Regions from separate parts of the Homo sapiens genome. Here region 1 is linked to region 2. A link means that fine-mapping ties the variant in region 2 to the expression of a gene that starts in the linked region. Tissue or cell type: whole blood. Region 2 holds a variant in brackets; the other region holds the start of a gene. All regions are shown on one strand. Distances are between the middles of the regions.

What was found. PIP is the estimated chance that this variant, and not a neighbour inherited with it, causes the effect.
Region 1: it holds the start of ANGEL1, and the variant in region 2 is fine-mapped to the expression of ANGEL1 in whole blood (TOPMed, PIP 0.90).

What each region holds. Positions count from the first base shown.
Region 1 is chr14:76,809,617-76,817,721 of GRCh38, forward strand. ANGEL1 (angel homolog 1) reads right to left here and starts at 3,266. Exons shown (of 10, transcript NM_015305.4): 1 at 3,148-3,266; 2 at 1-27. The coding sequence starts at 3,211. RefSeq lists enhancers at 2,307-2,881, 2,882-3,455 and a silencer at 2,904-3,333.
Region 2 is chr14:76,724,216-76,732,320 of GRCh38, forward strand. LOC105370577 (a long non-coding RNA gene) reads right to left here and starts at 2,496. Exons shown (of 2, transcript XR_007064273.1): 1 at 2,304-2,496. The variant T/C (reference allele first, on the strand shown) is at 3,412.

The DNA.
Region 1 (8,105 bases), 85 kb after region 2:
CATTTTTTCGACATGTGAAGAAAGCATCTAGGAGGAAAGCCAAAATACCAGGTTATAAGACTGTCATCCAACCCACACTATTCTCCCAGCTAAAACATAAGCCCAATAAAAGCAAGACCCATATCCACCTTGCTCATCATTGTACCATCACTGAGCCTGCCTACCTTAATGCCTGAACATCATCATCATCATCAGGGCAAAGTATTCACTATGTGCCAGGCACTGTTCTTTACAAGTGTTGACTAATTTATATGGCAGGGATCTGATAAATATTCAGTGCATGAAAGAACAGCTGTCTCACATAATCTAGAACACAGATGGGCACATATACCCACACTCCTTTTACATGACTTAGTTAAGACTACTATTAACAAACTCTTTGGTTCTAAGAATCACATTACATTGCAACCAGCAACTGACTGTTAATCAGAACTGTGGGTTATGATCTAGCACCAAAATTAATAAAACTGACCTTGAACAATGCCCCTAGTCAGATGAAGTTACTCTTGACTGTAAAATGGGGACAAGAGGCCAGGCGTGGTGGCTCCCAGCACTTTGGGAGGCAGAGACAGAGGCAGCAGGATCACTTGAGGCCAGGAGTTAGAGACCAGCCTGGGCAACATAACGAAACTTCATCTCTACAAAAAATTAAAAATTAGCCAAGTACGGTGGCACATGCCCATGGTCCTAGCTACTTGGGAGGCTGAAATGAGAGGATTGCTTGAGCCCAGGTTGACGCTGCAGTGAGCTATGACTGCCCTTCTGCACTCCCGCCTGGGAGACAAAGTGAGACCTCATCTCAAAAAAAAAAAGAAAAGAAAAGAAAAAAATAAATTTTAAATTTAAAAAAATAGAGACAAGTTTGAACTAGATAATCTCTGAGCTTTTCTAGCTGTATAAATTCCCTAATCTATTAATGTATTCCAAAAGAAAAAGTCCTAAAGTAGACAGTCTCAAAAATCTATACAATTTACATCTTAGCAAGGGCCCTTAAGCCTTTTCTCAAAGCTACTTATTGTAATAAAATCTTCACAAACTTCATTATCTGCTTTCCCATTCCACAACACATCAGAGGCTATAAATTACAAGGTGCCAACAATCGACAGTAAGAGACAGCTGACATCTCTCTGATACTGCAGCCACCAATGACAGCCAACAGGCAAGAAAGAAAGTGGGAAAAACTCTAAAATTAGAGCCCCCAAACTCTGAGCACAGTATTTTGGTGAGAGCAAACAACTCCTACACTCACACACTCAACCATTTATTTACAGCACAGGACGAGTAACATGCACGATGCTGGCCCTCAATCACTAGACTCATTTTATTGGCAATTTTTTTTTAAAGGGAAGAAACCTTAAAAGTGGCTCAAATATTGAAAGACGGTTCAAATATCTTGTTTGGGGTCTATGTATATTTATGTCCTTCTAAACAATGGTTTTAACCACGGTGATTTTGCCCTCGGAAGACATTTAGCAACGTTCAGAGACACTGTTGTTGTCACAACTGCAGCATTGCTACTGGCATCTAGTGGTTAGAGGACAGAGACGCTGCTGAACTTCCAACAATTCACAGGACAGACCCACACCAAATGATCCGGTCCAAAACGTCAACAGTGCTGAGATTGAGAAACCCTGCTCTAAACCTATGTATGGGCTGGGTCGTTGAGCTTTAGCCTCAAGGACTTCCTGATTATCTGCCCCTTGAAATATCCTCTGTGTATACCAGATGGCAGAGGTTCTTTGGTTCATATGCACGAAGTTACTAGCTTTCAATTTTGGTAGATGTCTTTTGGTGGTGGTGGTGGTGGATTTTCAGCAGCAGAATGCTTTTGTTTTTTAAAAATCTTATCTGGAAACCAAATATGCCAAGTAAATATAAGTGGGACTACTGTAATGTGTAGGTGGGGGGGCGGGGGGGGCCCTCCTCTGAGATCCCTAGAACTCTACTGGTCTGGAAACCTCTGGACTAGTATACTGTATCACTAAGGCATTAGAAGAGCTCCAGGAAAAACAGCAACATAGTTAAAAGAATATGTTTAGTTCTCTGGAAACAATTACTTCTGTGGAGTTTCCCACATTCCTCAGAAGTATGGACACACAAGACATTCCTGAATTCACTGAGTGCCTACTGTATACCAAGCAATGTGTTAACACCAGAGATACAGCGAACAAAATGGACGTGGCCCTGCGCTCCTGAAGTTTGCATTCTAATGGCAGATACACAGTAAAATTTAAAATATTTCTATATGAAATATATATTATCAATGACACACACATTGCGTACCAATTGTGTAAAGTTCCACAAAGGAAAACCACAGAATATACAATTGGAGCCCTCATTCCTAAGTACTTCTTGGTCCTGTCCCATAAATTAAAGGCAAAAAGTCTGCGAGTTCCATGGGATCTCAGAAACTGATGGTCGCATAAAACCCTCCGTAATTTCAAAGCCCAGAAATAGAGAATGCAGACAAATTATGAAACAATAACGAAATAAACACCCCCTCTTTGAGGTATCGACTGGGCATTGCCCCCACCCCAGCACATCTCCCTCTAAACCGCCGGGAGTGGGGGCAGGAATGCTCCAAAGCTGAGATCTAAATGTGTCTCTGATTGAACGTCCGTTTTTCAACCAAAGACACCGGTGAGCGAGAGCTGCCAGGTGGCAGTGAAAGGCGAGTGTGAAGTTAACCTGGGGAAGATCGGTGCGTCCAGTACTTCGGCCATAAACCTCCCAGAGCCGACCCGCCTCGCCCGCTGAGAATTTGGGCACTCGCCTAGGTCCGAGCTACTACCCCTTCCCGACCCGCCGGGGTGCTGACTTGGCCGACCCCACAATTTCTCTGCACCCCCAGGGCCAGGAAAGGGCCCTGCCCGTCCACAGCTCCTCTCCACCTTAACCGCGGCCGGACGCCATCTGACAACAGGCGGGAGGAGGGGCCGCCCACGAGGGACGTCGGCCAGGTCCAGGCCTCGTGGGGTCAGGAGGGGCCCGCGGGGCAGGGGCTCAGGACCGCCTCCCTACACCTCGGCACTGCCCGGGGCACGGTAGTCGTGAGGCCCGGCCAACCGCACGCCGCCCCAGGCCCGCGGAGCCCCGCAGAGGCGAGCCCTGGCCGGGCTCCTGTCTGTCGGTACGCCTGGCCGGTACCTGAGAGGGCGCGGAAGAGGCGCGTGGCCGGCAGCAGCAGGTAACACAAGCACGACGCGATCATGGCCGGCCGCCCGCGCCCGCCTCCGCTCCTCACTGCAGCCAGCAGGTCCTCCCTCAGCTCGGCCCCGCCCCCGGCCCGGTCCGGCCCACGTGGTGCCGCCGCCGCGCTTCAACAACAACTTTATTGGGAGCGCAGGTCTACGGGTGCGCACGCAGGAAGTGGGAGGAGCCGGTTCCCATGGCAACTAGCCACCCCTAGCACCCGGCTGCCACCCAGGCGTCCCGAATTAAAATTGAGCGCCTCACTGGAGGCCCCATAGTGTTATTCAAAGGCCACAGTTTATTCCCACTTCTGCAGCTGACTAGGTGTCCACCTTGTTACCACACTATAGCCTCTCCGCCCCTCAGTTTCCTCACCTGTAAAATGAAGAGCTGGACTTTCTCTAAGGCTCCACTGAACCTTGACTTCTAGCCCTTCTCGACCCAGAAAGGAAGCGAGTTATTCCCCCATTTCCCCCGTTTTCCTGCCTCTACTTCCCTGTCTCAGATTCTAGGTCACAAATTGAGTCCTACCTTGCTTCAGGAAGTAAGACTTTGTCTCCTTCCCTACTTTCTAAACGGGCCTTCTTTTCCCTAATCTAGAAAAACAGGGTTTCCCATTGGTAAGGAAGTCAAGAAAGAAAGGAGAGAGGACAAAGAGAGGAGAGAGAGAAGGGAGAGAGGAGAGAGACAGAAGAGAGAAACTTCCACAAGGCCAGGGACCAGTTCTGGCTGGTTGTTTGCTCACTTTGAGGTATCTCTAATACAATCCAAGCACCTATTGTAACCAAGTACCCAGCTTGGAAGTTATATTCTTGTTATATACTTCTATTTCTTTATTTTTGTTCAGTTAACCACTAGGCACCCCCCGACACCCCAGCACCCCCCATACACACTGTTAGCATATCTAATTGTATGTTCGCTTAAAAGTTCCAGAGACTAAATCTTGAAACAATATAGGCATCTGTGGAAATCTCCACCAGGAGATTGATTCAAGGCTACAGTTAATTTATAACTCAGCCCAGCCCGAGATGATGCCAGCCCATTCACCAGATGGGCAGTAACTCAAGACAAGTCATCAGAACTCGTCATGAAGACCTGCACTGCCTCACCCCTTGCATACCCTCCATGCCAAAACTTCTTAAAGCCTCGCATTTTGCTTGGAAATGTGAAGCAGCTCCATTAAAGCAAAAGCCTGGATCGTTTTTCCCCACTGCTAGCTTTGGTTTATAATAAAGTCAGTCTCCTTCTACCATACCACGACCTTGCTCGTTGGTTTTGCAAGCGGCCGAATCTGCATTCGCTAGCACTACTAGCCACCACATAAGCCTTTACTGACTGGTTGAACAAAGCATATGTCACTAAATGAAGGCCAGTTCTGCCATCACTTCTGTGCCACCTGCGACCTCTTTGAGTCTCTCTTCCCCAGTCCCCCTCCCCCAATCTTCTACCCCAAACAGGCTCTGAAGGAGGGACTGGACAATGCACCCAGTTTCAGTACCCAGTGTCTGAGTTGCACGATTTCCAGTTTGTGGCTGGAGCCTTGGTTGTTCAGGGAAGCCTTCTGGGGAGTCACCAGATCCTGGACCAGCTGGGTACATCATAACACTGAAAGGCTAATAGGAGGAAGAAGGAGAGAGTTAGTATTGTGGCCTTCCCACTACTTACCCTTAGTTCTAGAGGTGGCAATGTCTGCCTGCCTTCAGGCAACAGCACTTATCCCTTTGAGATGAAACAGAGGCCCAGCAATCTGAAGGTTGGGAAGCTGCTTAGAAATTAGTGCACAAATGGTGGATCTACCAAAGGCGCTCCCGAGGTCAGGCCCCCTCCTTTGATGTAGCTTAAGTAAAACCCTCCTTGTACCCTCCTTCCATTTTGTACCATGAGTTATCCAGAAGTCCAAGTTCCAAATCAGATCCTAATCAAGGGTAACGGTTCCCTTATCTCCACTGGGAAAATGCTTTCAAAATACAAATTTCTAGGCCCTACTCCCAGAGTTCTGATTTAGCAGCCCTGGAATGAGGCCCTTAAACACTTACTTATTCCAATGCACGGTTTGGGAACCTCTGCTAAAGGATCCAGTCTCAACTGGGCTGTTCAGTGCACAGTGTGGGCACAATGTGTCAGCCCAACTGATCTATGTTCTTTCAGAGGCTTTTTCTGCGGCCAGTTAAGTGAGGCTTCCCTCTTTTTGTTTCCTGGTCCATAATCAGCCGTGTTGGAAGGTGTAGGGTGATATAAGGATCACAAGCTTTGGAGTTAGACCAACTGAGTTGAAATCCTGGCTCTGCCACTTTTTACCTGTGGAATCTCTCAGGTTGCCTAAGCTCTTGGGGCCTCAGTTTCCTCATTGTGCCTGACCCAGTATAAACTCTCAATGTTTACTATTACATTTTTGGATTTGGGCAGAAAAGCAGCTCCAGACGTGGCTGATGTAGGATCTTCTTCCACAATTTCTGGCTAAAATAGAGCTCCTGCCCTCCAAATTGTAATGAGTATTACTAAGCAAGCCAATAACTACAGGTTCCAAGGAGACTTGGCCGAAGGAGTGGAGCCTTAGGCTTCCCCAGTCAGAGGAAAATTACAAGTGCAATCTGCACAGTCTCCAGCCTCATTGTTTCAGAAATATCCCAAGAAGAGAGACGATTCCCTCAATTCATTCCAGCTGTGCTAACAATGAAGACAAGTATGAGCACCTGCATCCATCACTACCATGGTTTCCAGGGTGCAGAACCTATGTAATGGAGCAAGTGGGAGGTTTTGCAATACTTTGAGAGACTTAAGATGCTCTCTTAAAGGGACATTTCCAGTCTATAAGAAATTTAAGCCCTTGAGGGCTAAAATTTTACTTATGACAACAAATATATGTGGAATTCCAACAGAGTGGCTGCATTTATTAACTTATTGGTTGAACATGTGCAAATATTGGGGCGGCATAGTGCTTTCTTCAGGATTACAGAGGCTACGGACCAACGCCTGGGACAGTGCTGCCCAAAAGAAATATGTTGTGAACCACATATGCAATTTAAAATTTTCTAGTAGCCTCATGTAAAAAGTAAAAATAAATCAATTGATAAAGCAAGTGAAATTAATTAATAATATTTTATTTTACCCCATAGATCCAAAAATTTTGTATTTTAACTTGTAATCAATAGTTCAAGATGAGATATTTTATGTTCTTTTTTTGTACTAAGTCTTCAAAATCCAGTGTGTATTTTACTTGGACATCACATCTGAATTTGGACTAGCCGTATTTCAGGTTCTGAATACTGCAAGGAGCTAATAGCTACCGTACTGAACATGGGCTGTTCTGGAGAGTGCAAACAGCTTCTCAGATAGGATAGGCTGAAAAGATTTGCTCATCTTCAACTCTTACGATAACCTGAGGCCTCTACACTCCTAGTAATCTGCCTTCTCTGAGCCTGGTGTTTTCTTTGGGAATCTCAAGATTTATGACTAGGCATTCCCAGAATGTGCCAGATTAGTCTGAATTAATGCATTCATTTGCTCACTTATTCACTGATTCATGCATCCATGTGTTCATTAGAGATTTATCAGGCAGTCATCAATGTTTACCCCAACCTCACCCTTGACTTTCCTTGACCTCCTGCCCACTCCTCGATTCCTTGAAACTTCAGCCCTGGACTCACAGTCTTCTTCCCTACCTCTAGTCCTCCTGTCACCAGTGTGGATGAGCCATCCTAACCCCTGGAAGCTCATTGCCATGACCTCCTTAATGACCTTCATTTCCATGTGCTTCAGACACACCCTTCCCTGGCTGCACCTTGGATATGTCATTACTGGGCACTGTTTCCCGTCTGAAATCATAAATTCACACACCCACTCTGATGGCATGGCTTTCTCATGGCTTTCTGCCTCTCCCACTTCTACTTCATCTTTTCTTTTAACTCCATCAGACCCTTGATTTCTCTAGTCTGTCCTTCTCAAGCTTTCCCTCAGTCATCATTTCTTTCCCTATCCAACATGGAATTCCCATGACCCCTCTTTTAAATCACTCTTCCCAATATCATCAACTCTCCTGCCCACTGTTCTTAGATTATATCTGCGTGGGTCAGTAAAACTATTCTTCTTGGCTCTTACATCTGGGCTGCTGAGCAACAATGAATAAAATTACCAACCCCAAAGATTGAGGCCATTAGTGTGCTAGTCTCCAACCTCTCTTCTGCTCGCAACCCTCCCCAGCAATTCTATGCTCTTTAATTAGCTTTCTCTCCCATTCTCACAATGATTATTCTTCTCAAACTTTCTGCCCTATTGCCTCCCTTCTTGCTCTTAGGAGATTATCTCCCCATCAACTTTAGAGAAAAAAATAGAGCCACCAAGTGTAAATTCTCTACTCCCTGTTGCCACAACAATGCATTGACCAGCATCTCTAACCACCTTTTCCTCTTCTCCCAACACAGCAGTTGGCACTTCCACCATGCTCCGGACCCCCTCCCCCTTCCTCTGAGATGATGTTCCTTCTACTACCCCTCTCCTTTCCTTCACTGACCCCTTGTCATCAACATTTAAGCATGCTCAAGTCACTCCTGTCAAGAAGCCCTCCTTCAGTGCCAGGTCCCCTCCAGCTAGCCCCTGCGTTCCCACCTCTCACAGCCAATCTTCTTGCAAGAGTTGTCTGCAGCTGCTGTCTACAATTCCTCACTCTTATTCATGCTCATTCCACTGAGATATAGCTTCCACCACCATTACACCACCAAAACTCCCTCCTCACTGTTCCTGATGCTTTCCTTGTTGAGGATAGTAGGGTCCTGCAGAAAGAACACGCCCTAGGCATTATTATTTCTTGAATATTCTGTAATTTTGCATAACTTCCCCCTTCTTGTAAGATTCTCTTCCCTCGGTTTCTGTGACATTCTTGTTTTCCGCTTGTCTTGGTGGATGTCCTATCCTTG
Region 2 (8,105 bases):
AATGATATGATAGATATTGAAATAAAACATCGAGTTTTAAGTATTTGGCTTTTATGAAAAAAAATTGGAACAACAGTTTTACATTATAATTTTATATACAGAGTATTTAAGTCAGGCATTGTGAATAGCTTCTGGGAAATGCTTTCAGACCTTGTAAGTTTTGCCTAGGATTGTTTGCAAAGTCTGATTTAACACCCTGTATATAATAGAGAAACCTAATTCACACCCAAACCTTTTGTATTTCTTAGAGTTACAAATGCAGCAAAGCATCTCTTAATTTCTAGAACCTTTCCAAATCATAAATGGTAGTATCAGTTTAAACCCTGTGATGTTCTGATAGGCTTATCACATATGTGGTGTGACCCTGATATTACCAGCAGCATAGCTTAATTCTTGAATTTGACCCTGTGTTAGTCCGTTCTCTCGCTACTAATAAAGACATACCCCAGACTGGGTAATTTATATAGGAAAGAGGTTTAATTGACTCACAGTTCAGATGGCTGGGGAGTCCTCAGGAAACTTACAATGACAATGGAAGGGGAAGCAAACACATCTTTCTTCAAATGGTGGCAGGAAGAAGTGCCAAGCAAAAAGGGGGAAAGCCCCTTATAAATCAGCTCTTGTAAGAACTCACTATCACGAGAACAGCATGAGGATAAGTTCCCCCATGATTCAATTATCTCCCACCAAGTCCCTCTCATGACACGTGGGGATTATGGGAACTACAATTTAAGATGAGATTTGGCGGGGGACACAGCCAAACCATATCAACCCTCTTCCCCTGTTTCTGGGTATATTCTAGCAAACTAGGTAGCATTCTAGCTTTCCTTAGACTAGAACGATGTTTAAACAATTGTCCTTACATTTAACATTTGAGTACAGAAAAAGATCGTCTAGGTTTATTTACTAAAACTGTCAGCTGGGTTCACCAAGCCACCCAAAATCCAGATAACATGGATTCATCCCAAATTCTTGTGCTCACCACTGGCTCTGAGCTGCATCTGCAGAATCACATCACTTTAGGAATCACCTTGCCATCCTGCTGTTGTTGCTGTTGGCACACATACCATTGACCCATCCGTGGCACTCAAACCACTCCCTAATTTGCACAGGGGCAGGTGCATGTTGTGTGTGTACATGTGTTTGCGGGCATGCATGTGTGTGTGCATGTGTTTTGAAGGTCTTACCAAATATTGGTGCATGGCCCTCTCACCTCTTTCCTCCCACCTTAATGCAGGAACTGGTTTGTCTCTCTTTTGTTGCTTAAAGTTCTGCTGGCCGGTACCCTTAGTATCTTCTTTATTCATTTTCAGTCAGCAAATAGTTATTGAAGACCAACTATGTGCCATGCACTGTACTAGGTGCTGGGGAAAACAGTAATAGTCCTTAACTTCAGAGAGTTTACAGTCCACAGTCTCCTGTCAAAGACAAACCTTACTCAAAGAATCATACTACCAAATATAGTTTCCCTAAGTACTTTTTAACTTTGTATTTTTAAAATAATTTTAGACTCATGTAGAAGTGCACATAGATATACTATATAGTTCCCGTGTACCCTTAATCCAGCTTCCTCCAATGGTAACATCCTGCATATTCATAGTACAATCATCACAACTGAAATGGGAAAAGTTCCCTTGTCCCCCTTGCAGGGCGTGCGATGGGGATGTGGCTTGCTTTTTCAGTGCCCTGCTGCTCAAACCTGTAGGGGAGCATACAGACAGGCACGCTATGGGCCTCCGACCCCATGGCAGTGTCTAGGGGTGAATGTTTACAGCTGAAGCCCTAGTGGGCGTGTTACTGTGTGTGTGTGTGTGTGTGTGTGTGTGTGTATGTGTGTGTTTTGAGACCGAGTCTCGCTTTGTTGCCCAGGCTGGAGTGCAGCGGTGTGATCTTGGCTCACTGCAACCTCCGCCTCCCGGGTTTAAGCAATTTTCTGCCTCAGCCTCCCGAGTAGCTGGGATTACAGGCGCCCGCCACCGCGCCCGGCTAATTTTTGTATTTTTAGTAGAGACGGGGTTTCACCATCTTGGCCAGGCTGGTCTGAAACTCCTGACCTCATGAGGCCTCCCAAAGTGCTGGGATTACAGGCGTGAGCCACCGCACCTAGCCCAGTGTGCTCTTTTAGTTTTGCTTTTAGTTTGGCCGGCTATAGGTGGCTTGTTTTAGTCAGCTCAATTAGACCCCTGCCTTATTGCAAGGACAGAGGGCTTTCTATATCCCCAGGTTCTTGCCTTGGTGCACCAAAGAATCGGATCATATGTGGGCTTGGAGAATGAGCGGAAGGTTTTACTGAGTGGAAGTACCTCTTAGCAGATGGGGGAGCCAGAAGGGAGATGGTTTTCCCTGGAGTCGGTCTGCTTGGCGGCCCGAGCGCTCCTCCGACTGCCCCAGCCAAACACCGCGTTGTTTTGCCAGTCAGTGGCCTGCCGGCATGCTGGTGCCTGTGGGTGTGTTCCTCCACAGAGCACTCCTCTTGACTTCCAGCTGCTGCTGTTTCTGCCTTGCTAGGGTCTCGGGTTTTTATAGGCACAGGATGGGGGCATGGCAGGCCAGGGTGGTCTTGGAAAATGCAACATTTGGGCAGTAAATTCCTGTCCTCACCTAGGTCGGTGGGGGTGGAGCCCTAGCCAGAGACCACGCCCTCCTCTACCCAGCACTTCCCTTCTCCCTTCCCTATCATTTAAAAGAACTACACCCTTCCCTTCCCAGCACTCCTGTATCTAACCAGGAAATGTACATGAATGCAATACTATTAACTAAACTACAGCCCTTATTGGATTAGCATTTAGCCATCTCTAAGTGCTTTTTTTTGTTTTTTTGTTGTTTTGTTGTTGTTGTTGTTTTGTTTTGAGACACGGTCTTACTCTGTTATCCAGGCTGGCGTGCAGCGGCACAATTACGACTCACTGCAGCCTTATCCTCCCGGGTTCAAACGATCCTCCCACCTTAGCCTCCTGAGTAGCTGGGATTACAGGTGTGCAGCACCATATCTGGCTAAGTTTTGTATTTTTTGTAGAGACTTAGTCTCACCATGTTGCCCAGGCTGGTCTCAAATTCCTGACCTCAAGCAATTCTCCTGCCTTCACCTCCCAAAGTTTTGGGATTACAGGCATGAGCCACCATGCCTAGCCTCTGTGCTAGCCTCTAAGTGCTTTTTAATACACTAATTAATAATTATAACGCCTAGCCTCTGTGCTAGCCTCTAAGTGCTTTTTAATACACTAATTAATAATTATAACAATCATAGGCAGTAAATACTACCATCACCCCTATTTTATAGATGCAGGAACTGAGACCAGAACAGTTACATAACTTGCCGAAGAGTCAGCTTGCAGTGGCATGACGAGGATTGCAAATCCAGGCAGCCCGGCTGTAAGGGATTTGCTCCCCACCACTATACTGTCCCTCCTC[T/C]TAACACTGCCCAACCTAGCCAGAACATGTTTTCTTGTTCAAACCCAAACAACCTATCATAGCTCTACAATACATGGCCAGGGAGCTATTAGAAAAAGTTGTAACACTTGGATGACATCTTTAAAGCCAAAATTTTGCTTCCAAAATCAAAGTTTGTTTCAATGGCAGAGGCTTCCCAAAGGAAATGACTATTTCGATCACTGTTCATGAAACAATATTCTTTGGGCTAACAAAGGCTGACATTTCAAACATTTCCCTGTGGTTGAAAATAACTTCAGCTGAAATATTTTGATTCTCAAAAGGAAGTTTCTTTGTAAGAAACGGCAAGAAATGCAGGTGCAGTTAAGGCACACCCAAAACAAAGGCCTCTGAAAATGCAGGGCTTCCTCTCCAAATCATACAATGTTTCCAACTGTCTCATTCCCACTGAAGGAGATAAGAACATGCCTTCCCCAAAATATGCTGCCCTGGCATATTGACTATTTTGAGTTAAAGGCATTTGAAAAACAGCAGGTGCAAGAAGATCATTCTGACATTCCTTCTGTTTCTTAAAAGCAGGAGATGAAACTGCCATGTGAAAGATGCTTTCTTTCCCACAGTATAGGGAAAGTATACTTTCCCTATACTACAAGGAAAGTAACAGTCTTATTATCAAGAATGGAAGCTTTAGTGGAGAGAATTCTGTACAGACCTTGTTAAAATAACTTACCTTTTTTAGCCTCCCCACTGAATTTAGTTACTTTTTCACAATTCTACTATTCTGTCTAATTCAGTATGTAAGTGTTCGACTCTAGCTGTGTCTTTGGGTCTTCAATTCTTTATGAAGGCCCCCATGCCATGGAAAACTTGTACTAAATATACTAGTATTCTTTTATCCTGTGGATCTGTCTTATGTCACTTTAATTCTCAGGCCCAGCTGAAAAACCTTAAAAAGGTAGGGGTAAAATTCTGCCTCCCCTATACCACACAACTCTAAGCCACATGAAATCTGCAACACATGCACATTAATCTGCTTAATGTTGGAAAATACCAATCCCAGAGGAGAGAGAAATAGAAAAGAAAAATTAAACAAGAAAAAACACCTTTTTGCCTAACCATGCATTTGTGGCATGTAAACGTGTTACCACAGTGCAGAAGTGACCTAAATGACCAAAGAGCCCCACCTCTCCCTTCTCCACGGTGAGATGTATCACTACCGTGGGCATCCTAAAGCCAGCTCAATCACCACAATGAGGATTCTCTTTTCTGAGGCATTACCGCCCTCTTTAACATTTTATGAATCCATTTGCAGCACAATCATTTGAGATTATAGTTTGGTCTTGCTCTCCCATAGATTCGTCCCTGCTCTGATTTTAAGTGGGTAGCCAGACCCTTTAGAATTGCTTGCCTTTGAGATTTCGCAGCACAGAAAGCTAAAGAGCTTCAAGTCCATGTCTCCTTCGTTGCTGGTGGCAGTAGGGTAAGGGGAAATGGGATAAATGTAATAAAGAGATGTGTTCTACATGAAGAGGGGAACAAGAGTAGCAAGGGGTGTTGCTGAACCAAACTGAGTCTGTTTGCTCATGCACAATGGAAAGCCACACCCTGGAGCATTTTTGCAGATATTTCTGTAGAGAAAGGTACATTGCAAGACCAGCCTTGAAGCAGTATATTTAAGGGAGAGATTCTGAGGAGGAGCTTTGGGGTGGTTAGTGATTGGCAGCAAAGGAGAGGAATTTTGGAAAGGCCCTTGAACGTGTATAGTTGTGTCTTCAAGCTTCTTCATGAGTCACACACGCAAATTCAGGGTGAGTTGGTATGAAATATGCAGTGGAAATTTTGGCTGTGATGTCAAAAGTCACCCACTGGGCAAGTAAGTCTATTCTGGGAAGACTCTAGTCAGCCATATTGGTTCCAGTTTCAGCCAGTGAGCCAGTTATTGTTGCAACTGGAGGGGATTGTATCAAGCTGTTTCCTTATCTACCATCCTGTAAGTCAAGCTCAAGGTTTCTGGTCAGTGACCAATTTCTTTTCTTTTCTTTTCTTTTCTTTTCTTTTCTTTTTTTTGAGATGGAGTCTTGCTCTGTCACCCAGACTGGAGAGCAGTGGCACGATCTTGGCTCACTGCAACCTCCGCCTCCTGGGTTCTAGCAATTCTCCTGCCTCAGCCTCCCGAGTAGCTGGGATTACAGGATGCACCACCACACCCGGCTAATTTTTGTATTTTTAGTAGAGATGGGGTTTCACCACATTGGCCAGGCTGGTCTCGAACTCCTGACCTCAAGTGATCCATCCGCCTTGGCCTCCCAAAGTGTTGGGATTACCACCATGCTCAGCCCGTGACCAATTTCCTTAAGCCTGTGGGGTACAGCTCCAGGGGCAGAAGATGTTACTGAAATGCCAGGCATCCCATTGCTTGCTGCACAGAATGCCAGGTGTCCCATTCCTTGCTGCACAGAAAGCCAATCACTGAGACTACAAGTATTACCAGAGCAGAATGCTTGATTTGGGTGCTGTGGCCAAGGAGAATGGGAGGTCAGTCTCAAATCTGTCTCTTCAATCAACTAAAATTAGGAGTTTATATAGCAAGGAAGGAATGTAACTATGTGTGGGAAAACAGGAATTAGGGAGAGTAAAAAAGAGTTGGTCAACAGACAGCAGGTGGTCTGTGAGGCAATCATGACTGGTGAGAGATCTCACTGTCCAGACGTGGTGATCTGGTAAGTTTCAGTTCTTTGATACTGTCTGGGAGGCTTGATGGTTGGTTTCCTGAGAAAGGAACTTGAATAAGACAAATGTAAATTCCTCATGTTTTAAGACTGGGAGGGTCCATTCCTATGTTTATTCCAAAGAAACCATAAACATCAGTTCCATGGAACAATTGGTCTGGTTTCAAAGAGAGAATCCCCTAGCCTGCAATGGGGAGCCATGCATCTCTTTCTGGAAAGATCTAAAGAGACAGATGGCTATTGGTACACCTAAGGGTGCTGAACTCCAGGCACTAAGGGCCTCAAGTTTTCCCAAGAGTCCCTTGCCCCAAGTGTGGCATGGATGCAGCAGGAGCAGGAGCCGAAAGGGACTGTTCAAGCTGAGACACAGAGGTCGCAGAGTGACCAGTGGGGCAGGGGACTGGCAGCAAATCCCAGATGAGTCTTTAGTGCTTAAGGCTTTAAGAACATTGAATGACCTGGGGCAGGTGGAACACTGTCAGAGAGACTCAGTAATTACTGAAATTTAACTTCCCACCACTTTCACAGGTGGGATTAATCCACGTTGACTTGAGGAGTACACAGAAATGTTGTATTCTTGAATATCTGCATTTGTGGACCAGTAGTCATACTGAGTCTATATTCATTTATTTGTTCATTTGGCAAATAATGACTGAGCTTATACTATGTGTTGTACACAGTGGTCCCCCAAGCTTCCAGTGATCACACTGGAAGGTGTCCTTCCTAAACCAAGGAGAGGCCACTGCAGTACTGCTGATATAGGAGAAGGCCCCAGGACATCTTATGGGTAGCATCACAAATGACCCACGTTGCACTGATGCTCTTACACTGTTAAATTAAGTGCAGCATAATGTGATGTAGAGGAGTAAAATTTTACCTCTACCTTCCTTAGGGCTTATCAACTGAGCTTGCAAATTAAATGACATAATAAGAGAAAATCAAGAGGAGCAAAGCATACAACTTCATTCAATACAAGTTTACATGACCCAGGGGCACTCATAAGGAAATGAAGACTCAAAGACACATAGTTGAACATTTATATACTAAATTGGGCAAACAGTAGTAAAATGTAACAAGACAAAGGGGCTTGGGCTAGGGTAGTTACTTGGGTAGAGGAGTGACTAGGAAGATAAGAATTAGTCTACCAAGTACAGATTTCCCCTGCCTCGACTTCCTATTCTTGATGACAAGAATGATTCTTTTTTTCTGGTATAAGGAAGATATCTTTCACATGACAATTTCATCTCCTGCTTTTAAGAAACAAAAGGAAGGTCAGAGGGATCTTCTAAGAGTACCCCCTGTTTTTTAAGTGCCTTTAACTCAAAACAGTCAATATGCCAGGACAGTATATTTGGGGGTTGGCATGTTTGTACTCCTTTAGTGTCAAATTTCAAAACTGTACATCTAGAAATTTATTCCAAGGAAATAATCATGGATGCAATGATTTTGCTGGAAGAATGTTCATCTTGGTCTCATTCATCTTAGCAAAATCCTGGAAACACCCAAAATAGGTTAAATATCTTACAATACATCTATTCACTAGAGCACTATGCAGCCATCAAGAATGATGTTGTACAGCTGGGCACAGTGGCTTATGCCTGTAATCCCAGCACAAGGCAGGAGGATCACTTGAGGCCAGGAGTTCAAGACCAGCCTGGGCAATACAGATAGATCCTATCTCTACAAAAACTAAAATAAAATAAATTACCCAGGCGTGGTGGTGCATCCCTGTAGTCCCAGCTACTTGAGAGGCTGAGGCAAGAGGATCACTTGAGACCAGGAGTTAGAGGTTACAGTGAGCTATGATCATATCACTGCACTCCAGCCAGGGTGACAAAGCAAGATTCTATCTCTTTTAAAAAAAAAAAAGTAAGTATGTCTGGGTGTGGTGGCTCACGCCTGTAATCCCAGCACTTTGGGAAGCCGAGGTGGGTGGATCATTTGAGGTCAGGAGTTCTAGACCAGCCTGGCCAACATGGTGAAATC